Homo sapiens: one gene and its partner. The protein of the gene in region 1 binds, or shares a complex with, the protein of each later gene. Each region holds a gene or a part of one and is shown on either strand. Other genes may lie near its edges.

What was found.
Region 2: the proteins of FLT4 (region 1) and VEGFC are in contact, whole or in part, in a crystal structure (PDB 4BSK), measured with the Homo sapiens proteins. Residues at the interface, in NP_891555.2 of Homo sapiens: Gln172, His199, Asp200, Ala201, Leu202, Tyr203; in NP_005420.1 of Homo sapiens: Leu119, Asp123, Trp126, Gln130, Asn167, Arg210.

What each region holds. Positions count from the first base shown.
Region 1 is NC_000005.10:180,646,587-180,654,218, reverse strand, and holds the start of FLT4 (vascular endothelial growth factor receptor 3 isoform 1 precursor), read left to right. Parts: upstream 1-4,618; 5' UTR 4,619-4,673; coding exon 4,674-4,731; intron 4,732-7,632. UniProt on the Homo sapiens protein: Tyrosine-protein kinase that acts as a cell-surface receptor for VEGFC and VEGFD, and plays an essential role in adult lymphangiogenesis and in the development of the vascular network and the cardiovascular system during embryonic development.
Region 2 is NC_000004.12:176,782,901-176,789,925, forward strand, and holds part of VEGFC (vascular endothelial growth factor C preproprotein), read right to left. Parts: intron 1-7,025. UniProt on the Homo sapiens protein: Growth factor active in angiogenesis, and endothelial cell growth, stimulating their proliferation and migration and also has effects on the permeability of blood vessels.

The sequences.
Region 1 (7,632 bases):
GTAGAAAGCATGACCTTCTCATCATGGTCATGAGATAGCAAGATACCTTTTTTTTTTTTTTTTTTGAGACGGACTCTCACTCCGTGACCCAGGCTGGAGTGCAGTGGTGCAATCTCTGCTCACTGCAAGCTCCGCCTCCCAGGTTCACGCCATCCTCCTGCCTCAGCCTCCCGAGTAGCTGGGACTACAGGCCTCCGCCACCACACCTAGCTAACTTTTTTGTATTTTTTGGTAGAGACGGGGTTTCACCATGTTCGCTAGGATGGTCTCGATCTCCTGACCTCGTGATCTGCCCACCTCGGCCTCCCAGAGTGCTGGGATTACAGGCGTGAGCCACAGCGCCCGGCCAGTAGCAAGATATCTTTACGGGGTGAAAGACAGAAACTCGACACATGCACCTACTTTACGCTACACAGAGAAGGCAATTCCAGGGCCCGCAGGTCTAAATATGAAAGAGAAAATAAAACATTAAAATTTATAAGTGATAAAAAATAGTAAATATCTTCATGACATCAAGATAAAGGTTTCTTTAAAAGAACACAAGGCCGGGCGCAGTGGCTCACGCCTGTAATCCCAGCACTTTGGGAGGCCGAGGTGGGCGGATCACCTGAGGTCAAGAGTTCATGACCAGCCTGGCCAACATGACGAAACCCCATCTCTACTAAAAATACAAAATTTAGCCAGGCATGGTGGCACACGCATGTAGTCCCAGCTACTCGGGAGGCTGAGGCAGGAGAATCGCTTGAACCCGGGAGGCGGAGGTTGCAGTGAACCGAGATCTTGCCACTGCACTCCAGCCTGGGCAACAGAGCACGGCTCCATCGCAAACAAAAAATAATAGTAATAAAATAATGAGATAACACAAGTAACACCAGCCATAAGGAAACCAATTTGTAAGCGTGCTGTGTTAAAATGAAAATCTTCTGTCTTCATCCTGCCTCCCAAAAAGAGAGCATTACGGAAGTGAAAATTCAGACCCCGAATGAGAGGAGATGTGTAGCACAATGTACCCAAGTTCCTTTTCCACAGATGGCCTTGGCAGTGTCTGCCATCCCACATGCTCTTCTGCATGTGACCTTGCCTCTCTCTAATAATTGTGGGGAACATGTCCCCTAGGCAGGCTGTGACTTCTTCGAGACTATCTAGTTTCCACCTAGTTCTCTTGGATAGTCACTCTGGGGAAGCCACCTGCTACACAAGAACTTCAACTAATGTGGGATTGTCATGCTGGAAAGACACCGAATGGGCGCACTGGTTGGCAGCCCCAGCTGAGCTTCTGGACAACAGCCAGCACCGACCACCAGGCATCCAACCCAGCTAAGTAAGCCCTTGTCAAATTCCTGACTCTCAAAAGCATGAGCAAAACGAAATAGCTGCTGCTTTGCCCCACAACATCTTGGAGTACTTCATTATACAGCAATAATAAAGGAACTGATAAAAGACTCATATGCAGAATATATAAAGAACTACAAATCAATAAGAAAAAGACAGATGGGGAGTCGTAAAGAGCAAAAGACTTGAAATCTAAATGGCCAATTATAAAAATGTGCTCAACCGCAATGGTAATTAAGGAAAAGCTAATAGATCAGGCATGGTGGCTCACCTCCGTTAATCCCAGCACTTCGGGTGACTGAGGCGGGTGGATTACCCGAGGTCAGGAGTTTGAGGCCAGCATGGCTAACATGGTGAAATCCCGTCTCCACTAAAAATACAAAAATTAGCTGGGCATGGTGGCGTATGCCTGTAATCCCAGCTTCTCCAGGGGCTGAGGCAGGAGAATTGCTTGAACCTGGGAGGTGGAAGTTGCAGCGAGCCAGGATCGCGCCATTGCACTCCAGCCTGGGAACAGAGCAAGGCTCTGTCTCAAAAAAAAAAAAAAAAAAAAAAAATAGCTAATGAAACCGCAATGAGATGCCAATGCAAACCAACTAGAATGGCCACATTTTAAAAACCAAAACTGACAATACTGTGGGTAAAGGTGTGCGGCAGCGGTAACTGCTTACGCTGCCATGATCATGCAAAATGGTACAAATCACTTGAAAAAATACTTGGCACTGGCTACCAAAGTTGAAGACAGCATGTGTACACCAGGAAACACATACAAGAGTGTTGTGGCAAAAGTTGGAAACTGGTAACCACTCAAACTTCCATTAATAGTAGATGGACAAATTGTGGTGTATCCTACTGTGGAAAACTATGCAGTTACGAAAATGAGCAAAGTATAGATCATCACAGCAATATAGATGAATCTCACTAATGGTGTTGAGCAAAAGAATATAAATGGTATGAAGGCACTGAGATAAAGTGGAAAAAAAAAACAACAAGCAAAATGTGAGCTAAACTGTAGGGACACAAACACACAGAGAGGAGTAATAGACACTGGAGACTCCAAAAGCAGGGAGGGAGGGCAAGAGGTAAGGACTGAAAAATCACCTTTTGGGTAGAGTGTCCACTGTACAGGTGACGCGTACACTAAAAGCCCAGACTTCACCTGTACACAATATATGAATTAAGAAATCTGCACTTATGTCCTCTAAGTATACTTTAAAATTTTAAAAGCACATTCTGGCTGGATGCGGCGGCTCATCCCTGTCATCCCAGCATTCTGGGAGGCTGAGGCAGGTGGATCACTTGAGCCCAGGAGTTCAAGACCAGCTTGGGCAACGTGGCGAAAACCCAGCTATGCAAAAAAGTCACTGGGTGTGGTGGCGCACATCTGTGGTCCCAGCTACTTGGGAGGCTGAGGTGGGAGGATCATTTGAGCCCGGGGGGTGCTGAGGCTGCGGTGAGCAGATATCATGTCACTGCACTCCAGCCTGGGTGACAAAGTGAGACCCTGTCTAAAACAACAACAACAACAAAAAAAAAACAAGTATATTCTGGGCGGGGCACAGTGGCTCATGCCTATAATCCCAGCACTTTGGGAGGCTGAGGTTGGCAGATCAGGAAGTCAGGAGTTTGAGACCAGCCTGGTCAACATGGTTAAACCCCCATCTCTACTAAAAATACAAAAATTAGCCGGGCATGGTGCCGGGTGCCTGGAATCACAGCTACTCAGGAGGCTGAGGCGGGAGAATTGCTTGACCCCAGGAGGCAGAGGTTGCATTGCAGTGCAGTGAGATCGTCCCACTGCACTCCAGCCTGGGCAACAAAAGAGAGACTTTGAGAAAAAAAAAAAAAAGTACATTCTGAAAAAAAAAGCAAAACATATATTTTGATGATAAAATGATAAACAAAAGCAGGGAAATGATAATGCCAGGGTAGTGGGCATCTTCTGGGGTTGGTGAGGGGTTTGTGATGGGAAGTGAGGGGATGTGGGGATGTCATTCTACATCCCTTGGCCTGGAGAATGGAAACACAGGTATTTGTTGCTTTAAAATTCAGGTTTATAATATGCTGATATATTATGTACTTTCCATAAGTGTGTTACATCTCATAATCTTTCAAAGCTAAAAAAAATCAATATATGATTGATAAATACCTAACTTCATGTATCGCTTGGTTACCTAGTTTCCCCAACCTTATTTGTTAAATTATCTACACTATCCGCACTGATTTGTGATTCCAGCTTAATAATATAGCCACTTCTTACCTGGATTGGAGAGAGCTGGTAGTGGTTATTGAAAATCTACTCTTGCTTTTTGGCGAGGATGAAAGGGCTTTGGGGGGCGGGGGTGGGGGGATGGAAAATGTGAATGAAACGAAAAGCAGGGAAGGAGGTTGAGACAGTCATGGTCATGGGCTTCATTATTAAACAGGAAAATTCTAGAGACAAACTGAAAAGAGAACGGAAGTCTGTAAGAGGGTTGCCAAGTCAGAAAGCAAAAGCAAAGTGTCGCTTTATTAAAAAGGTGGGGGCGGGTCCTGATTGAGCTGAGAACAAAACATCTGGGGGAGTTCTAAAGCTAGGAGGCCAGGCCTGCAGGGAGGGGGTCGGTCATCCCGGGTGTCCCGCTCACGGGTGCGGCTTCCGTCGACACTGTCCGTCGACACTGTGCAGGTAAACACTGCTGAACGGGTTTTGTTTTTGCTTTTTTTTTTTTTTTTTTGGCTCCCAGACTGGAGTGCAGTGGCGCGATCTCGGCTCACTGCAACCTCCTTCTCCCGGGTTCAAGCGATTCTCCTGCCTCAGCCCCCCCGAGAAGCTGGGATTACAGGCGCGCACAACCAAGCTCGGCGTATTATTTTATTTATTTGCTTGTTTATTTTTGAGACTGGGTCTCCCTATGTTACGCCGGCTGGTGCCACTATTTTCAAAGATGTAACATACTATTTTTACAAGGATTGCTTTCTTGTTTAGTCTAGATTTTACCGATGGAAAGAAAGGACGGAAAAGAGCGCGTGCCGCATTTTGCTCCCCTTTGCCCACCAGGCTCCATCACCTCCGGAGCGCATCGCGAGACCGTCTGCGTTACCCGCGTCCCCGCGCCCGGAGCCGCCCAGGAGGGGGCCCGGACCCTGTGGTGCGGAGCGCGCACTGCTCGGGTGCACCGGACGCCCCGCGGCGGGCTGGGAGGGACGGGGGGAGGGGGGCGCGGGGAGCGGCCTGAATCCCGGGCCCGCCTCCGGCCCCCGCCCCGCCCCGCCCCGCCCCAGGCCAGCCGGCGCCCGCGCGGACACTTTCAGCCCCGAGCCGCGGCCGCTCGGGTCGGACCCACGCGCAGCGGCCGGAGATGCAGCGGGGCGCCGCGCTGTGCCTGCGACTGTGGCTCTGCCTGGGACTCCTGGACGGTGAGCGCGGCGAACGGGCCACCCGCCCGAGCGTGGGGCTGGCCGGGGAGGGGGTACCGCGCACCTGGGGCGGGCGCTGAGACCGCTCCGCCGGGTACGGGCGGGGGACACGGTGGCCCTGGTGCGCGGACGCCTGAGGGGAGCACGGCGCTTGGGGCGCGGGACCTCGGGATGAGGAAGGGGCGGGCGGGGACCGCAGCCGGGTCAGGGCCAGGGCGGCCGGGCCGCGCCTCGGCGCAGGGGTAGCTCTCCCGGCCCCTGAATCCGCGTCTCCGTCGGTGGCTCCGCGTCCTCGGAGCCGGGCCCTGCCGGGCTGCGCGCTGAGCCCGGATCCTTCGCGCCCTTACTCGCTTCCCCGCGGGGTCCCCGCGCCGCGCCGTCCCGACCCACGCGCGCCGGAGATCCATCCCGGCCGGGCCCCGGACTTGGGTGCGCACTTCCCGACGCCCAGCGCCTCCGCTCGCGGTCGGTCCCCCAGAGGGCGCTCGAGGCGGGCTTCCCCCTCCCCGTGGCCGGCGACGGCGGGGACAGGGGCCGGGGACCACCGCGCGCCCGAGGCGGACGGGTGCAGGTGCACGCTGGCACTTGAGACGAATCTTGAGGAGGCGAATCGCGGGCTGTCAGCGCCGCAGAAGGGGCGGAAGGCCAGGGGTCCCCGGATTTGAGGGGACAGGGGCCTCGAAGGCCAGCTGAGGAGCAGAGGCCCCCGCGGGAGGGTCCCCTGCACAGGAGAGGCGGGGTTCGGTTTGTGTTGGGATGTGGCTCTGGCGGGGAGAGACGCAGACCTGAAGCGGAGGCGGAGGGGTTGGAAAGAGGGACTGTGGGGGATGAGCGGGCGGCAGAGGGAGTGGATGGAGATGTCAGGGAGGAAGCTGAGAAGATGAGCTGGGAGTCCCCACGGAGCTGGTGTCCCTGGAAATCAAAGGGTGTAAGGGCGGGGTCAGGGGTTCCAGTGTCTGAAGCCCTGAAGTCAGCGACGGGGACCTCAACATTTCTGCACGCCATAGGAATTAAATACTGGCTTTACATGCTTGTAATTCTCACAGGGAGTGTCAGACCCATTTTACACATGGAGAAGCTTAGACCAAGGACATGTGTCACTTCCCCAAGGTCCCCAGGAGGCCCAAAGTAAGCCTGACAAAGCCTGCCTTTGCTCACCACCTGTATGTCCACTGGCTGAAGGGCAGAGGACAGGAGAGGGGGCAGGTCTGGCTCAACCAGGGGAGGAGGGAGGAGAACATCTATCTGGGCCTCCGAGTCGGGCAGGCCAGATCAGGGCGCTGCCCTTGGCCCTCCTGGACCCAGCCCAGGACCAGGCTCCCACAGGTGCTCAGGATGTATTTGTCGAGTGGCTGGTAGACCTTGGTTGGACTGCAGGGCTGTAGAATGGGAGACGCTTATCCTGGAGGAGACATGGGACAGGCACCTGGGCGCAGTGTCTGAGCTGGGCTGAGTAGCTGGAGAGGAAGAGAGAGACCCGGGAGGGGAACCCTGGAGGAGGGGCCCAGAGGGCAAGGGGGCTTCCAGGGATCCAGGGAACATTCTGCAGGTATAAGGAGAACCAGGAGAGGCCAGTGTCCTGGTGCTCCCGGGTGGAGCACAGAGGGACGTGGGGTGAAGGGTGAGGAAGCTATTCCCTGCAGTAAGTAGTGACTCTTAGTGACCCAGTTATGAAGAGGAGAGAGGGCATTAGTTGGGCGCCCCATGGAGAGGGGTGTCCTGGGCTGGACCTGGGTTTGGCTGGTGGGGAGATGGCAATGAAGACAGAGGTCATCCCTCCGTGAGCCCTGCACCTTGCTGTACCCCCTGCTAGGCTGAAGACCCCGGGAGCCCCCAGCTTGATGGGGGATGCCATGGCGGAAGCACAAGCCCTCAGCTGCAGTCGGGTGTCAGGGCAGCTGGTCCGGTGGGAGCTGCAGTCGGGTGTCAGGGCAGCTGGTCCGGTGGGAGCAGGCCAGAAGCCTGAGCATCCTGAAGCTGACCCCTTAAAAGTGTGCTATTGATCATAGAACCAGACTCTTGTCCTGCCTCTGCCGTAAAGTCCTTTCTGTGTGACCTGGGCCCCCTCCTTTCCCCTCCCTGCACCTCAGTTTCCCCAAGCATAGCCATGGCACAAGCATAGCCATGGCACAAGCATAGCCATGGCACAAGCTGGCAAGCCCCGAGGTTGTGTGGGTTGTGTGTGCTTGGGCTGGACTCCAAGACCCAGATGCCTGCTGCAGTTCCACAGTCTTGCCCCAGTGGAGAGGGTAGGTCACAGATGTCTCTTGGGGCTTAGTCTAGAGAGAGGCCATTGGCACCTCTGCACTGTGGCTACCAGCTCAGGGACATGCAGGAGCAGGGTCTGCTGGGCATCTGGAGTGGCCTGGTCTCAGGACGTTTGCCCTTGCTGTGACCTGGGTCACAAAGGCCCAGATGTGGACAGATGTGTGGCCCAGGGATGCAAGTCACTGCAGGCAGGATGTGGGGATCAGGCCCACTTTACTTGGGCCTGGGGACCTTCTGCTCCAGCTCAGGGCTCTGAGGACTCGAATGCAGGTGCTGTTCCCTCATCCACCAGGCCTATGGCACAGAGCCAGTGTGGCTGAAGGAGTCCTGAGCCCTCCCAGAGCATAGGGCCCACATGGCTGGGCCCAGACAGGGTACGAGGTGTGATGTGTGGTCTGTCTGGCGAATTCTTCACTGTAACCCCCAGCAGTGGCACCCCGACCCAGGGAAGGAGCCTGCAGTTCTATGCAAGACCCCAGCATAGTGCCTGTTCGGGGTGGCCCAGGGAGGACTTGGACCTGGCCCCATCGCACAGGGGTTTCCTGTGCCTTGCAGGGACACAGACATGCCATCAGACGTGTATTGCCCAGGGATGAAAGTGTTCAGGGGCCCTGGTGAGGCCCAGCTGGTGGC
Region 2 (7,025 bases), on another chromosome or scaffold:
TTTCTGGATGTTACTGAATCAAAAAAATATGCTGTCAGCTGTTCAAGAGCTGGGAAGTGTGTCCACCACTGATTTTTCCTCCCTTTTTCCTGTCTGCTCACGGGCCTCCAATGCCCCCAGCACTGTAGTCTTCAGCACAGGGTAACCACGCAAGTCACAGCACTGACTGGCAAATTGACAAAGAGAACCACCAAACAAAATCAACTATTTGGAATAAACTAGAGTACTCAAGCAAATCAGCTTACTCTCAGAGAAGGAAAGTATCTACTCCATAATTCATCCCAGTGTCCCAGTGTCCGCACATCTCAGACAGCACACGCTGTACTAGTTACCATTCTGGAAGAGGGTCCCTTAGGAACAGTGCAATCACATTTTCCTAAACAAATTCACACAAGTTTAACTCTGGCATATAGCATTCTCCCCTTAAGTTTTCTTTATATTTTCCTCAGTGAAATTGTTGATATTTTAGGTATTCTGTGATGATTTCATTGTAAATTTAGAATGCATATTTATTTTTTGTGGCAATAATATAGATGAGATATTTACACATCAAAGTAGCAACATTAGCATGTTTCATTAATAAACATTTAAACTTGAAAATGTATATGCTCTGAATATATTCAAGATGAGTTCATATTAAATTATATGGCATTATAAAAAGCTTATGTGTACCAAAATCCTTTACAGCCAAATGACCTAAGTATGAATGAAGCACATAAGGAGACAGCATCATCCCAGATTCTTTGGTTTGGTGTGGTCTATGGACACCTGTGCTGCCCTCCAGGAGAGGAACAAACCCCGGCACCCAGGGGAAGTGGGAACATATTATAGGCAGAACTACAGTATGTAGCCTCCAGACACTGAATGATTAAACACCCTGCATTTCCTTCACCTGTTTCAAAATCAAACATCAGTATTATATCCTCTTGCTATATTTTAGAAATTGGGAAAATTGTCAGTAATTTATAATTTTAAAAATTTAATAAATTAGTTGCAAGGTGCTGAAGAATCACAGTTATGTCATATGTCTAGGACATAGTACTTACATGCTATATTCTTTGTTTGTTTTCTGATCATGAAGACTATCTATTTAACACAAATTTACAGAAAGCTTACTATATGCCAATCATGGTTCCAAGGGCTTTATATGTATGCACATGCTGTTTTTTTTTTTTTTTTTTTGAAACAGAGTCTCACTCTGTTGCCCAGGCTGGAGTGCAGTGGGGTGATCTCAGCTCACTCACTGCAACCTCCGCCTCCTGGGCTCAAGCCATCTTCTCACCTCAGCCTCCAGAGTAGCTGTGAATACAGGCACGTGTCACCATGCCCAGTTAATTTTTCTATTTTTTGTAGAGATAGGGTTTTCCCCATGTTGCTCAGGCTGGTCTCAAACTCCTGGGTTCAAGTGATCTACCTGACTCAGACTCCCAAAGTGCTGGGATTACAGACGTGAGCCACCACACCTGGCCTATATACACATTCTTATCCTCAAAACAACCTGATTAAGCAGGCATTAATTATATTCTACATTTTGGAAGAGGACTTTTAAAAGGATAAAGTAACTAGGCTGGGCGTGGTGGTTCACACCTGTAATCCCAGCACTTTGGGAGGCCGAGGCGGGCAGATCACGAGGTCAGGAGATTGAGACCATTCTGGCTAACATGGTCAAACCCCGTCTCTACTAAAAAAATATAAAAAAAAAATTAGCTGGGTGTGGTGGTGGGCACCTGTAGTTCCAGCTACTCAGGAGGCTGAGGCAGGAGAATGGCGTGAACCTGGGAGGCGGAGCTTGCAGTGAGCTGAGATAGCACCACTGCATTCCATCCAGCCTGGGCTACAGAGCCAGAGTCTGTCTCAAAAAAAAAAAAAAAAAAAAAAAGATAAAGTAACTAAATACACAAAACAGACACAAAGAAAAAGAAAAAATTAAAAATTAAAAATTAGCATCTACTCATTGTGCTACAAAGAAGCAGAGAGAAACTAAGTAACTTGTCCAAGGTCACACAGGTACTAAGAGGCATCCTCAGGACATGAATACAGAAAGGCATGTCCATACCCTGTGCTCTTATCCACTGCACTGCATCTCTAAACAAGTTACGTCACTGACACAAGCAACAGTTATGTGACTGAAACAAGCAGAAATATTGGCAGTGAGTTCTTCCAGGCGCTATCACAGGCAGTGTAAACAGAGTGCATAGGTTCTGCAGTTAGCAAAATAGCTAGCTTTGATCCCAGCCTTTATCACTTATGACTGCATACTTTACTATTGCATAAAAGTAAGAGAAAATGGTAATTTAGGGATGAAGTTTTAGGTAAATTAAATTACAAAATAAATGTCTAAATAGAAACCTTTCAACTATAGAAGTCAAACCACATCTTTCTGGTCTACCCCAAAATATACATCTTTCCACCTGTCCAAATGAGGACAGGTTGAAGCCAAACTTCTTTAGAAGTGAGTCTTTTAAACTTGTAAGTATTACCTTTTACACAAAGTTGTGCATTTGAATATTTCCTCTTTCAGTATGTCCTTTCTCTAGTAGGTGGCATCTCTTGAGTTTGAGTAAATTATTCCACCATATTTAAAAAAACCTTTTATAAGAACAGCCAAAGTATTTATATTGTTTATTTGGTAGTTTACCCACCTCCTCACATCCCCACTCCCACCTTTCTGGTCTCATTTTTAGCAGATTTTAAAAAGCAGGAATTTCCAGGACACTTTAGGGTTCTCTCCTTCTCTTTTTTTTCAATTGCCCACTGACCTACAAATAAATGTGTGTGCAAATATAGAGATTCTAATCTTGTACACTTCTGATTGTCTAAATATTCTATTTCAATGAACTGTCTACAAATTCTTAACCATGCAAGAAAGAACACGTAAGTCACACTTGGCAGTCTGAAGAACTATTAAGCGGTGTATGCATGAATATGTGTGTGGGGGGTTCTGTGTATGTGTATCTAAGCATGACCACTGTTTACACTGCTTGCTTCGTTTGGAATGCAAACCATAATGGCAGAGATGTCTATTTCTATACTTTTGTAAATGTATCCAGATAGCACAATGATGGGTGCCTACAGTAAGTCAAAAGTAATCACCACTATCATCGCCAGCAATCAGGAGCATATAGAGGAGTTCGAATACCATATATGGGTGGCCACTGTAATGAGAAAGGCAGAGTCACTGCCAGACACTTTAAGAAACCCTGCAGTTGAAAATGGCTTCTGAGAAGCTTCTGAGAAGCTTCTGGTCAGCTTTCTTAGACACTTCTGTGCAACAATGCCAGGTTAAGCTCCTTAAAAACCTCACTTTCAGCATACCACTAAAGAATCTTCATTGGCTCCTGCTGCTTTCAACTCAAACTCAGACTTTCTCTTTGGTTTTCACACTTCCCACCATGCTCCCTTCAGTTTCCCTTAAAGCTCTTGACTTTTGCACCAAAGGGTTTGCTTCTAGTTCCCCAAATATCCCTGACCTTTACTTCCTCTGTACTTTGCTGTCATTCTTCAATATTCAAAACATCCCTCTCTCCCCCATTTCTGTAATTAGCATCTACTCATTTTTAACATTGGGTCTCATATCATTCCACCTTTCCCAGGCCTGCCCATGCAACTCCCAGAAGGCTAGCCAACAACTGGTGGTAACTCACAAGACTCTCTTACAAAACCACTTACATGGTCTGGATTTATAGTTTAATTCACTTGTAGTATTTTTAATGAGTAAATTTATTTTCTCCAAAATGATTATAAGCTTGTTATAGACAAGATCACTCACTCTACATTTTTTGCATCACACACTGAACTGTAATTTCCTGCTTAGAACTGAAGCTGCCACTAGTAAGAACTGATTAACATGAGTTGAAGTAGATTAAAGAGCAAATAAACCTGGTACTAATGGGTAAAAAGGAATTAGGAGCATCCACATGGCTTCTTTCTTGAATTCCTGGATTACCTTTCCCTGCCTCTTCCAGGCAGCCCCAAGGCAATAAAGCAATGGAGGAAGGCCTGTGGAACAGGGCTACAATCCATCTGCTTATCCAAAATGCCTGGAGACTGCAAGAGTCTCTGAACCTGGAATTTTTCTGGAAACCAAGTGCATAGACATATTAATACTCACACCCCAAAAACAAGCAGGACTGATGGCAGCATCATGTAAATAAATACATTACTATTTTCCCAGTGAAGATTAGAAATATTTAAATTAGATAATAATGACTATAAATAGCCTTATGTCAGTTCAGATCAGGATTATAGCACCAAATAATTTAAGAAAATTAGCTTTTGGGGCCGGGCGCAGTGGCTCATGCCTGTAATCCCAGCACTTTAGGAGATCAAGTGGATCACCTGAAGTCAGGAGTTTGAAACCAGCTTCGCCTACAAGACAAAACCCTCTCTCTATGAAAAATACAAAAATTAGCCTGCTCTAGTGGCACATGCCTGTAATTCCAGCTACTTGGGAGGCTGAGGCACGAGAATCGCTTGAACCCACGAGGCAGAGGTTGCAGTGAGCCAACATCATGCCACTGCACTCCAGCCTGGGCAATAGAGCATGACCCTGTCTCAAAAAAAAAAAAAAAAAGGAAAGAAAGAAAAAGAAAATGAGTTTTTGGATTTCAAAATTGGAAAAAAAACTATCGTGGATAACTCCTAACACCTGAAAGCCACTAGGGCGCGAGCAGTATAAGGAAACAGTACTAATCCACTGACAAAGCATTTAATGTACAATTTGATTAATTCCATGATGGATGCCCAATAAAGCAAATTAAATAAAAACAGTCTCTGCTTTCTCATGGTTAAACATAAACTCTGAAAAAAAAAATTAATCAACCGAGGAAAGAAGCCACCCCAAAAATTTACACTAGTAAGTTTCAGAAAAACAATTACACAAACCTAAAATATTTATAGTAAATTTTATAATTACACTATAACTCAAACTCATCAGCATCTCTCCTTGTTTAAAGTTCTCTGCTATATCTGTTTTTTCTAATGAGAAAAATCAATGATAACTTAATCCACAATTTATACAAATCTGTACATACAAATATGTGTTTGTAACAAAAGGTAGACCCATATAGTATTTATAAAATGCACATCTACAAGGAATAATGTAACTGGTGAAAGGTGAAACAATATATGCTCAGAAGTCAGAGGAAGTATAACGCTTCTGCCAACTTAAATTTGTTCTTTCCAAATCCACTTATTTGTGAAAGGTCATTTGGCAGAGGTAAAATCACAATCTTTCACTGAAGTTACTTGAGCACAACTTTGAAAAACCGTTTGTCAGAAAATCTTGTTAAGCCTCCAGTTAAGCAGTCGTTCTTATAATATTACCATGGATTAGGTCATTTATAATTTATCTTTAGTCAAACGAACACCATGTGGTAAAGCCTGGAAGAAAGTCTGGGTTTATTTCCGTTTGTCCCGTTGTGGGGAATTAGGACCTAAATAAATGCAACAAGGTGCCCCTAACTGCAAAGTCACACGCAGTGCTTTTCTCTGCCTTCCTGCACGCTGCTATAGTGTGCCAAAGGAGACCAGCAGAGGGGCTGAAAGGAGTCTGAATCACAGGCCCAAAGGCCCAAACCCATTACCACATTTCTCTAAAACATACATGCTTCTCGATTTACGATGGGGCTACATCCTGACAAATTCCTCCTGAGTTGAAAATATATTTAATATACAGTAGAGTACCTGTTGTTTACTCTCACGATCACATGGCTGACTGGTCACAGCTCACTTCCATTGTCCAGCATCCAGAGAAAGTATTTTACTGCATATTATTAGCCCAGGAAAAGATCAAAATTCAAACCTTGAAGTATGGTTTCTACTGAATGTCTATCGACTTTGCACCATTGTAAAGTCCAAAAGTCCTAAATAGAACCATTCTAAGTCGGGGACTGTTGGTATATGCCATAAAACTTTTTTTAAAAGAAAAAAAGGAAAAAAACATCTATTCTTTTTCCTGGTTAAGTCATTCAGATCTTGGGTTCATCATCCTTAATGAAATAAAATAATGTCCATATTATGGAGGTGTAGTGAAAAACAAAACTAACTTGCAAAGCTCTTTGCGAAGTGCTTAACACACGTTATGAACATCACAGATAATGATTATAAACTCCTACTCTCAATAACAACCCCAGGACTGCCAAAGGCAAGCAGGCAAGCACAGTCCCAGGGATTCGGGAAACCTTCATTAGTCTCACGCCAGTTCCTCTGTTGGTGAAAACCCCAGCAAGAGCTGAGAAACAGCATTCTGGGTTGGACACATGGAGATAACTAGGAGGCCAGGACCTTCCTCTCAAGAGGAACCGGAACCAGAACTGGAAGTCCAAAATGAAATCTAAATCCACTACCCTCCGTCTTTCTCAACTCAACTGAAAAGGACAGGATTAGAGATCTACGGGTCTTAGACATATGCCACTAAGATCAGTAATTAACTGCTTTCTATGAAGCAATTTTGATAACTGTCTTGTGAATAAATAGCTATCAATCAGATATTCATAGTTCAGAAGACTATAATGGAGTGGAAATCAAAATGAAAGATGAATTGAACTTTCTATATCTAAAACCTCATATAAGTAGCATCACTCAGAGGAATGTCAGAAATCTCTTATAAGAGTAGATGTTGACAAACATAATCATATACTATAAGAAAAATTGTAAATAGAACAGCTTCAGACTTGCTATTCTCTTTTGTTCCCATCATGTCCAGTTAATTTTACTTTTGCCTGCCTTACTTTTTTGACACTGTCTTGTTTGTGTTAACATCCTTCAGAGAAACATTTTAAGACTTTTCAGTAAGTCATGCAACCACAAATAACTAGAAATAGGAATCCAGTAAATGCAAATATAAGTCGAGGAATAAGGAGATCTTCATTCTATTTGTGATTTTTACCTACAATCTTTTGCATGGCTTTACGGGTGGGCTGAAGGGCTGGATGGCTAACCTTGGTTCATAGTTTGTGTGCTATTTTTGATTTTTTAAATATTAAAAAAGTTCCTAGGTGAAAGTTATGAAAACATTGCATCTA